2 separate regions of the Homo sapiens genome follow, and region 1 is linked to region 2. The links come from fine-mapping of genetic effects on gene expression. A gene starts in region 2. The other region holds a variant in brackets. All regions are shown on one strand. Distances are from middle to middle.

Region 1 (5,363 bases), 34 kb before region 2:
AGAGGCAAGCACAGATGATCAAAGTCACGGTGAAGGTGGGCCTGAGGGACAGATGGCCGGGGAAGCTCAGATGAGGGGCGTCTCCAGCCGCAGGTACCTCATGCTGGGACTGCAACCCAGAAGGACACAGTGTGTGCCAGCGCTCACAGCCAGCCTGCTTTCATTAATGCATCAAAGGTAGCGTGTTTTCCTCCCAAAGCTACGGGAGGGGTGAGATGCTCTTACATTCTCCAGCATTTTAGAATCAGCAAAGCACGATGCTAACGAGATGCAGGGTAGACAGAACATGCGGTGCAGGCCCCCGCCAGCCCTCCTCCCAACAATGTTCACTCACGGTCACTGGAGTCGTAGGAGAGGTATTCAGCTAAGAAGCCGGTGTCGGTGTAGGACTGATCTGAGTGGAAGCGAACTGTGATCTTGTTGCTGTTGCTGGTGACGACGAACTGGGACCTCTCTCCGCAGTATCTGGAGGGGGGGCGGGGCACAAGGTGAGGAGGGACAGCTGGGAGCCGGGGGGCTGGGGGTCTGGTGGGACCCCTCCCCCTGCAGCATGGGCCCGGCAGCCCCCATACCCCCGGGGACTCACTTCTCCCCGTTGATCTCCACGTAGTCCTTGGGGCAGGTGCCCGCAGGCACGCCGGGCTCCAGCAGGTAGAAGAATTTGAAGCGCACCTTCACATGCTGGTTGTTGGGCACCTGAGGGAAGAGAGGCTGCTGGGAATGTGCAGTTCCCCTCCCTCCTCCCTGAACCTGAGGACGTCAAAGGGAGGCAGCGGCATGGACCAGGGAGAGATGGTATGCCTTCCATCACCAAGACAGGTTGCAAAGTTCTCCCAGCGTGTTTGTTTGTTTGTTTGTTTGTTTGTTTGTTTTTTGAGATGGAGTCTTGCTCTGTCGCCCAGGCTGGAGTGCAGTGGCAAGATCTCAGCTCACCGCAACCTCCGCCTCCCGGGTTCACGCCATTCTTCTGCCTCATCCTCCTGAGCAGCTGGGATTACAGTCACAAGCCACAACACCCAGATAATTTTTTTTGTATTTTTAGTAGAGATGGGGTTTCACCATGTTGGTCAGGCTGGTCTCAAACTCCTGACCTCAGGTGATCTGCCCGCCTCGGCCTCCCAAAGTGCTGGGATTACAGGCACGAGCCACCACACCCAGCCTCTTTTCTTTTTTTTTTTTTTTGAGACAAAGTCTCACTCTGTCACCCAGACTGGAGTACAGTGGCAAGATCTCAGCTCACCACAACCTCCGACTCCCGGGTTCAAGCTACTTTCCTGCCTCAGTCTCCCGAGCAGCTGGGATTACAGGTGCCCGCCATCACACCCGGCTAATTTTTGTATTTTTAGTAGAGACAGGGTTTCACAATGTTGCCCAGGCTGGTCTCGAACTCCTGACCTCGTGATCCACCTGCCTTGGCCTCCCAAAGTTCTGGGATTACAGGCGTGAGCCACTGCGCCCGGCCCTCCTGGCATTTTTAAAGAAAGGAAAGGGAGGCAGCTCTGGCTGGGATGGCGTGAGCGGCACGGACAGGCGACTCTCTTGTCTCACACACCTTCTTTGATTTCTTCCTGACGGCGCCTCTGAGACCCAGGCACTATCACCCTCACTTCACCTAGGGGCAAGCTGAGGCCCAGGGAGCTTCAGCAACTGCCCAGGTCGTTCCATCACCTGACAAGGAGCTAAGATAAGAGTCTGGGTCTGCCTGACACTGCAGGAAGACCTGACCCCACCCTGGGCCCTAAGACACATGGTCTCTTTGGGGTTTGTTTATTTGTTTTTGTTGTTTTTTGAGACAGGGTCTCACTGTTGCCCAGGCTGGAGTGCGATGGCACTGTCATAGTTTACTGTAGCCTTAAACTCCTGGGTTTAAGTGATCCTCCCACCTCGGCCTCCTGAGTAGCTGGGACTACAGGCATGTATCACCTGCCTGGCTAATTTTTGTAGTGTTTTGTAGAGATGAGGTCTCACTATGTTACACAGGCTGGTCTTGAATTCCTGGCCTCAAGTGATCCTCCTGCCTTGGTCTCCCAAAGTGCTGAGATTACAGGTGTGAGTCACGACATCTGGCTGCCTCTTTGGGGTTGATAAAGGATCTCCTCTTCCTTTTCTTCTGTCTTCCTCATTTGCCATCCACCTCTGTCTCACACACACACATACGCACACACACACACACACACACACATGCACACATATGCAAACACATGCACACACATCCACACACATCTGCACAGGGAGACACACACACGTGCACATACATGCTCACACACACACACGTTCACACG[C/T]CCCATAGCTCCTACCTCAATGTTCCATGTGCAGTCAATGTTGGGTGGGTAGTGGCCTGGGTAGTAGGGGCTGTTGAATGTCCCCTGGGCTTTACGTAAGCGGCCTCCACAGCCTGAGAGGGAAGGTGGGAGAAAGCAAGAGGATCAGGAACCTGCCCGGCCGAGCAGGCGGACGAGGGCTCTGCAGCCTGAGGCCTGGAGCTGCCTCCTGGACGCGTGGATGCTGCACAGCAGGTGCACAGCCAGGAAGGCCAGGTGCCGGGTGCCGAAGCTTCAGGAGGGCTCCTGACCCAGGCGGTCGGCCAGATGCCTTTGGCTCAAGCTTCAGCCTCTGCTGCTGACCTAGGCCAGCTCGCCAACCACAGGGTCTAGCCTGTGGCCTCCTAAGCTCAGGTCACCCCCACTAAGGCCTTCCCCTTCTCTGTGGCCCGAGGGCAGTCCCGCCCTGCCCTGCCCTTCCTTACTGCTCATCCTAGGCAGCTGGAAGAAGGTGGCCTCAAAGCCGGGATGCCGCCGCTCAGTGTTGGTTATCAGTGTGATGAGCAGGACGTTCTGGGAGGAGTGGAAGGTCAGGTTGTAGGAGGGAGGGTAGGTGCCACACAACCTGTGGGGGCAGAGGGCGGGCATTAGGAAGAGCAGACAGAACCCAAGCTTCTCACACACCCAAACCAGGCTCTCAGGCAGAGGTGCCTGAGGACCCCACCCCTAACTCTGGTCCCATCCACAGAGGCCAAGAATGGAGTCAAAAAGACCTTCATTCAAGTAAGTCCCTCCCCCACACAATCACTGATGGAAGGCGCTAGTGATAAACAGTTCACCTTTGTCACAATCACTGATGGAAGGCGCTAGTGATAAACAGTTCACCTTTGTCACAATCACTGATGGAAGGCGCTAGTGATAAACAGTTCACCTTTGTCACAATCACTGATGGAAGGCGCTAGTGATAAACAGTTCACCTTTGTCACAATCAAAGAGCAACACCCAGCCGGGCGCAGTGGCTCACGCCTATAAACCCAGCACTTTGGGAGGCCAAGGCGGGTGAATCACCTGAGGTCAGGAGTTCGAGACCGGCCTGGCCAACATGGTGAAATCCCATCTCTACTAAAGATACAAAAATTAGCTGGGCATCACGGTGCACGCCTGTAATCCCAGCTACTCCAGAGGCTGAGGCAGGAGAATCACCGGAACCCGGGAGGCGGAGGTTGCAGTGAGCCGAGATCGCACCACCGCACTCCAGCCTGGGCGACACAGCGAGACTGTCAGAAAAAAAAAAAAAGAGCAACACCCTAGACACAATACATGCCCACAACAGAGGATTTATTAAATAAACTGTGGGCTCAATCAGAACAACAGCAGTAGTAACAATCAACATTTATTAAGAACATGCCAAGGTCGGGCCTATAATCCCAGCCTGTTGGGAGGTCAAGGCAGGAGAATTGCTTGAGGCCAGGAGTTTCAGACCAGCCTGGGTAACGCCTCATCTCCATAATCAAAAAAACTAGCTGGGCATGGTGGCGCTTGCCTGCAGTCCCAGCTACTCCGGGGCAAGGCCAGAGAACTGCTTGAGCCTCAGGAGTTCAAGGTTACAGTGAGCTATGATTGCGCCACTGCACTCCAGCCTGGGTGACAAGGAGACTCAAAAAAAAAAACATGCCTGGCATGGTTCTCGGTGCTTTTAAATCTATTAACTCATAATCTTCCTAACAGCTCTATGAAGTAGATACTATTACCCCTATCTCAGAGGTGAGGAAACTGAGACACAGAGATGTTCAGTAACTTGCCCAACATCTCATGGTTAATAAGTGGCAGGCTTAGAATTTAAACTCAGGCATTCAAGCTCCAGAGTCCACACTGCTCACAACCATGTCATCCTGATTGTGTCCCCTCCTTCTAAACAATGCAACCTTATAAAAACCCTGAGAGAGAGGGTGACTGATTTGGAAAGACCATCATAATATACTTCATTTGTTAAAGCAGGTAATGAGACTGAATGCACGGGATAATCCTATTTCTTAACACACACACAGCAAAAAAGGCTGGGAAAATAGACATCAAAAATTTGGCCGGGTGCTGTGGCTCACGCCTGTAATCCCAGTACTTTGGGAGGCCAAGGCAGGCAGATTGCCTGAGGTCAGGAGTTCGAGACCAGCCTGACCAACATGGTAAAACCCCATCTCTACTAAAAATACAAAAAAAATTAGCTGAGTGTTGTGGCGCATGCCTGTAATCCCAGCTGCTCGAGAGGATGAAGCAGGAGAATCGCATGAACCCAGGAGGCGGAGGTTGCGGTGAGCCGAGATCTTGCCACTGCACTCCAGCCTGGGCGACAGAGCGAGATTCCATCTCAAAGAAAAAGAATTAACAGTGGTTATTTCTAGACAGTAAGATGACGAGTGACTTTAGTCTTCCTTTTGCTTGCCGATTTCCTTCTCCCACTGGGAACATGTACTTCTTTGTTGTACAATTAATAAATTAGAGAGATGGAAAAGAAGTCCTGGTTACGAAGCTGTGGCGGCAGATGGTTCTAGGTTGTTCTTGGCCTGAATTTTAGCCCATTATTAATCAGGAAACGTCCGCCGAGCTCATTTCCCTAGACAGCCACGGAAGGCTCTGGCCCAGCGAGTGCAGGAGAGGCGGCTCACCCACCACGCACAGCACCTCTGCGAGGTACGCCCCACCCTGACGTGGGGTATCCCACAGGTGCATTAACCACGCCTTTCCGTTTTCTGTAATGCAGGTGCTTTGACATCTGAGGCCCTGCTGACTGTGGAAGGCTGGCCAATGCTTAGAGATAGGAAAGGACTCACCTGCAAGCAAACCTTCCCTATGCAAACCCACCTATGGGGGCCCAGCCCCACCTCCTCCGAAAGGATCTCACACTCAGGGCCACTATTCTTTGCCCTAACCACCCCAGGCCCAAGTATCAGAGAACTAGGGACAGCTCCTATGCCCCGGAGCCTACTGAAATTATTCAAACAAGCCAGTTCTAAACCTCTCACCCTGATTTGTCTTGCCTTTTCTGTGTAAACCATATAAAGGCTCTTTTTTTTTTTTTTTTTTTTTGAGACAGAGTCTCGCTCT
Region 2 (5,363 bases):
TGGTTGACAAATTAACAAGCAGGTGACCCTCTGAATAGCCAGAGGTGTACACCCTGGCCCCTAGACATCTGATTTTGGCCACACAACATCCGATTTTTCCAAACTTGGTCTCTGGATGCCTAAGGGATGCTGAGTCTTACCTAGGGCAATTGTGATCGGAAAAGGAACCAGTGGATGTCAAGGCAGCTTCATATTCACCATCAAATACTCAACAGGAATCAAGACCCTCAGGGAGGCAGGCTCCCTGGCTCTCATTAATGGCCATAAGAAGTGGCATCTGTTTCCCTGCTTGCTTGCAGGCAGGGCTCACACCATCCCCAGATGCAGTAACGTGCATCAGGACTCTGAAGGCCACGCAGAACACTTGATGGGAACAGCAGGGGTGGGGCAGGGGCCACACCACCAGCCTTGGGAAGGGGACAGCCAGATACAAATACCACCAAACAAGGGTGCACGGATGGATGCAACTGGGGACAAGGAACCCAGAAACAACAGCACCCTGTGGGCCAGGCTCTGCTGACCCAGATAATAAACCCAGGGGCAGCAGCCACACCTCCCGGCCGGGGATGGACATCCTAGCTGCAAACACACACTACAGGGTGATCCCAGGGACTGGGATTTCTGGTGAGGCCAGGGATGGGAGGAATCTGCAAGACATGGAAATGAGCTTTGGCCAATTTCCTCTGGACACTCCGCCTCACAGCTAACTTTGGCATTCGTCTCTTAGTTTCGCTCTCAAGACTGGATGTTCTTTAAAGGAAACAACCACATCTTACTGGTCTCTGAGAGCCTTCCCTTCACCCATGGGACTAGGTACTGAGTTAGTTCAATAAAGCTCGGCAGGAGAAAAGACAAAGAGCAAGCCAAGAGAATGAAAATGGCAGAGGGGGAAGGAACAGCCCAAGGGCGCAGAGAGCAAATGAGCTTCGCAGAGGAGGAGGAAATGAGCAGGGATGGGGGAAACTAAAGCCAGGGCTTGCAGGTGACAAGACAAGTCCGCTGAATGTGGGATCCTGGGGGTGAGTGGAAGGTGAGCCCCAGCCTGGCTGCTTGTCAGGTGGTGAGATGGCTCAGAGAGGAGGCTGGACCACACGACCAGGAAGACCCTGCTTTCCCCGTGTGGGCAGGAGAGTCCTAGAAAGGGAAGTCAGGGAGAACAAACTTGGGGTGGGGGCACCGGACTGCCCTGAAATAACAAATTCCAAACAGCAGGTTCTCTGCTGAAGAGGCAGGGAGTCTAGAACCCCAAGTAGGCAATTAGCAAGGACACAAACATAGCAATTACAGCAAGGAAGAGAAGGTGAATCTGCCTCACAGCAGGGCACAGGCACAGCCAGGGGAAGGGCCCAAGCCTTCAGGTCCACTGGAAGCTTTCCTCCTTGCTGAGGGTGAAAAGTGGAGAAAATAGCAGAGCCCAGCCCCAGGTCCTGTCTGTGGTGCAGGCAGCCTCCAAAGCCCCAGCGTCTGATTTTCTGCAAGCTCCCTAGGTCGGGATGCTGCTTGGACAAAAGGAATTGATCTGAGACAGCACCAAAATCAGGCCTGACTTAGGGAGCAACGGCGGAGACTATGGAGCCCAGGGGCACCCGGAAGGAGGGGAGAAAGTGAGGGTTGGCAGGGCAGGGAGGCCATCATTTGCAGAGGAGCAAAACTCTCTGCCACACAGCCCCTGCCTCTCAGCGCCGCCCTGACCTGGTATGCCCTGGCCTTCCAGGAAACCTGGGGGTCTGCCTTGGACAGAGAGGGTAGAGACCTGGCTGCTGGTCCCGCCCGGGCACTACCACCTAGGTGGGTCCGTCAATGAAGTGACTAGCGACCCATCCCCAACTCCATACAGGAACATGTAATCTTTTTGAGATCTTTCAATAGGTCTTTCATTGTTCTTTCTGCCAAAGAAGAGCTTCCTGTTTCGGTACTTCGCAAAAGGCTCAAGACATGTGTGTTCCCACATCCCTTCCCATACAGCCGCCTTCCCAAAGGGCTCCATCCCCTCTCGAGAAGCCCAGGCAAGCCCAACTCTGGAGTTCTTAGCTCCAGCCCGTATGGCAGCCAAAGCCCTGGCCTCCCAGTTGTCCTCTGCGAGGTCCCAAAGCGCCTTTTGACGGGGAAGGAGAGAGACGAAAGAAACTTTCTGCAGAGGCCAAGGATGGCTGAGACTCCAAACCCTCCTGAAATTTCACTTCCTCCCAAATAACCCCACTCCAAGCCCCTGGTTTCTTCCAGATGTTCACTAACAGCGCGAGAGTCATGGAGGGGCCGAGACGGAGCCCCTTTTTTCAACTCAGGGAAAGAAAGGACCGAGGGCGCAGGAAGGCCCAGGGGCTTCCCGCCTCCCCCTGGCGGGGCGCAGCCGGTCCGGTACCAAAGGTCCGGCCAGCCCCGCCCGCCCGCGGCCCGGCACCCGCTGAACAGGAAATTCCACCTGTGCGCCCAGAGCTCGGCCACCGACGGACACGCCAGGGGAGCCGGCCGAGCCCAGCGCCGCGCTGCAGGGTCGGGCGGGCAGGAGCTTCCCAGCGCCCCGGGTCCCCGGCCCGCGCTCACCTCGTGCCGGGAGTTGTACTTGAGTCCCGCGCCGAAGTCCTTCGGGCCCCCTCCGCCCTTGCGGGCCCGATCGCTCCCCATGGTCCCCGAGGCCGCTCGCGGGTCTCACAGGCGTCGTCCCTGCCGGCGGCCGGCTCCCATGGCCCGCAGGGCGCGGGGCGCGGGGCGCAGGCGGCGGGATTCCGGGCAGGCCCAGCGCGCCCGACCGGCGGCGGTGCCCTCGCCCTGGCGCGCTCTCTCTCCCTCTTCCTCTTTCTCCGGCTGCAGCTCCGCTCTCACACTCCGGCCCGGCCCACGCAGGTAGTTTCAGGGTGTGGCCTCGGCCCGCCCAGCCCGCCGCGCTCGCCTGCGCACCTGCCCGGCTCACCTGCCCGCCCCCGCCGGCCCTGGGGGAGGCTCCTCCCCTCGGCTCTGGGCCTGAAGGTGAGGGGGCCTCACTCGGGTGGTGGTCGCTAAGGCCCTCACCATCACCACGACGGCGTTCACCACCCCTCCGGCCCTCCAGGGGCCCTGCCCCGGGAGGGCAGCCCTTTATCCACCTCCTTGATGCCAACCATCTTTTCCCTCCTCCCTCATGCGCCTCCGGTCTCTCCCCTTCACCTTGCTCACTTTGCTACAGGACTAAATCGCATTTATGAACCCCCCAAAACCAAACAGAAACCAGAACCGCCCCTGGCCCAGGCTCCCCGTCGGCTACGCAGCCTCCTGTTCTCCAGGCGGGAGGCGCTTGCTGGCCTGCGCCCGGCTACCCTGGGGAGGCCCAGTGACATGAGCTGTGCCACCAGATGCCCTCTGAGCCATCCCAACGCCCCTCGCCCACTTGCAGCATCTGATGCTTCCTCAAATGCCCCCTTTCCCTGGATTCCGGTCCTCCTTTCTAGTCCTAAATGTCATGATTCCCAAAGTTCTCCCTTCAGTTTCATCCCTTTCTTCTCTAAGCTTTTTCTCTTGGCAGCACGTCTCATCTTACGACTTCAGACAGGAAGACCTCCCTCCCAGCACAGACACCACCAAGGAGTGCCAGTTCTGCCTTAGCGGTCGCCTGGGGACGTCTCCATTTATGTTCTACTGTATTCTGTAGCCAATGAACATTACCAAGCACACACTAGGCGCTAAGCACTGTCCTGGGTACAGGGAAACAGGAGTGAACAAAATAAAAATCCCTGCTTTGAGATCAACAAGCCCCATCTTCCTTCCCTGACTTGCCCATTTTCCACTGTTTTCTCTAATTCTAATGGCAGCATTCTCCCAGGCTCAAATCCTGGAATCATCTTTGATTCTCCACCCTGCTTACATCTCATATCCAATTAGTTCCAAATCTGATCAAGACTCTGCTGACAAGCATAGCCCTTCCATTCCTGCGCATTAGAAGACCGCTATTCGAGTCCTCAGAGCCCTTTGCCTGGTTAAGAAAGATCTCCTGCCTCTGGGCTGCCACCCTCTGATCTCTCCTACACAAAGCAGTCAGGTAAATCTGAAACCACAGCTCCTTTATGACTTTCCGTGTCTCCCGGATCAAATCCAACCTCCTTAGCCCAGCTTCACACTCTGCCCTGTCCTCCCTTAACACCGTGCCTCCAAGCATTCCTGTTTGGAGCCCCTCTCTCCAGCCAGGCGTTCTGATCTTGGCAGCTTTCATAAAGCTTTTCATCCCCTGGAAGCTCTTCTCCTTCATACTCCTTCCGCATATTGGGTCGAAGACACCGATGGGGTTTTTTAGTGTTGTTCATTGAATGTTTTTAGCTCTCTGCCTTCTGGGCACAGGCCAGGGTGTTACTCTCTCTTCTCTGAAGTTAGGTATGGCAGTATGGCTAGCGGTAACCAAGAAAATGTCCAATGAGAGGACACACCACTTGTACATAGCAGCATAAGGAGGCACTGCACAATGCCCTGCTCTCTTCTGAGAGGTTTAACTCTGTGACCTGTGACCCTAAGTGGCTACAATGACACACACTGGATATGTAGCATGAATGAGGAGTCAGTCAGCTTTTGGGATGTTAAGCCACCGAGAGCTGAGGGTTGTTTGTTATTGCTGCAAACCTCACGCTTCCTGACTGATATGCTACCTCCTCCCCAGGAGTTTCCTTCCCTCTCAACCAGAACTAGCTCTGTTTGTACCTCTCTCATGGAGCTCACCACCATTTCGTTGCATTTTCTGTCTGTGTCTTAACTGCCTTTGCACCCTCAAAGCCTAGCACAATGACTAACACAATATATTGGGTCAATTTAATTGAAAGAAGAATGAATCTGCTGCCTTCCATCACATAAAGCATTCCAAAGCTAAACAGAAAATATTTCTAAAAGGCTGGCACGTTGGCTTCCAGCACTTTGGGAGGCTGAGGTGGGTGGATCACCTGAGGTCAGGAGTTTGAAATCAGCCTAGCCAACATATAGTGAAACACCATCTCTACTAAAAATACAAAAATTAGCTGGACATGGTGGTGCATGCCTGTGGTCCCAGCTACTTGGGAAGCTGAGGCAGGAGAATTGCTTGAACCTGGGAAGTGGAGGTTGCAGTGAGCCGGGATCATGCCACTACACTCCAGCCTGGAGCGAGACTCCATCTCTCAAAAAAAAAAAAAAAAAAAGAAAAGAAAAAAAAGAAAAAGAAAATATATAAAAATAAATTTTCCTTTGGATTACCAATGGCACAGCATTCTTCAACTAGTGTGAGTGATGGAAAGTAAGCCAAATTCAATGTGACGTAAATGAGATGGTACTCCTGACACACAGACCTTCTGTGCTGCTGCAAACGCAGTGACTCACGTTGTCTCCCCACTTCCTAGGGCCTCATCTTTTATCTCGTAGAGCTGGGCGCT

Evidence for each region. PIP is the estimated chance that this variant, and not a neighbour inherited with it, causes the effect. A credible set is the group of variants that fine-mapping cannot tell apart.
Region 1: its variant is the best candidate, but not a certain one, in a credible set for the expression of ST14 in whole blood (TOPMed, PIP 0.63).

Annotation. Positions count from the first base shown.
Region 1 is chr11:130,191,672-130,197,034 of GRCh38, reverse strand. ST14 (ST14 transmembrane serine protease matriptase) reads right to left here. Exons shown (of 19, transcript NM_021978.4): 8 at 2,747-2,886; 9 at 2,298-2,395; 10 at 587-696; 11 at 335-465. Among named protein-coding and RNA genes, the nearest start is that of ST14, 35 kb to the right of the region's middle. The variant C/T (reference allele first, on the strand shown) is at 2,283.
Region 2 is chr11:130,157,242-130,162,604 of GRCh38, reverse strand. ST14 (ST14 transmembrane serine protease matriptase) reads right to left here and starts at 2,823. Exons shown (of 19, transcript NM_021978.4): 1 at 2,545-2,823. The coding sequence starts at 2,625. RefSeq lists an enhancer at 1,088-1,587 and silencers at 2,675-2,744, 2,825-2,944.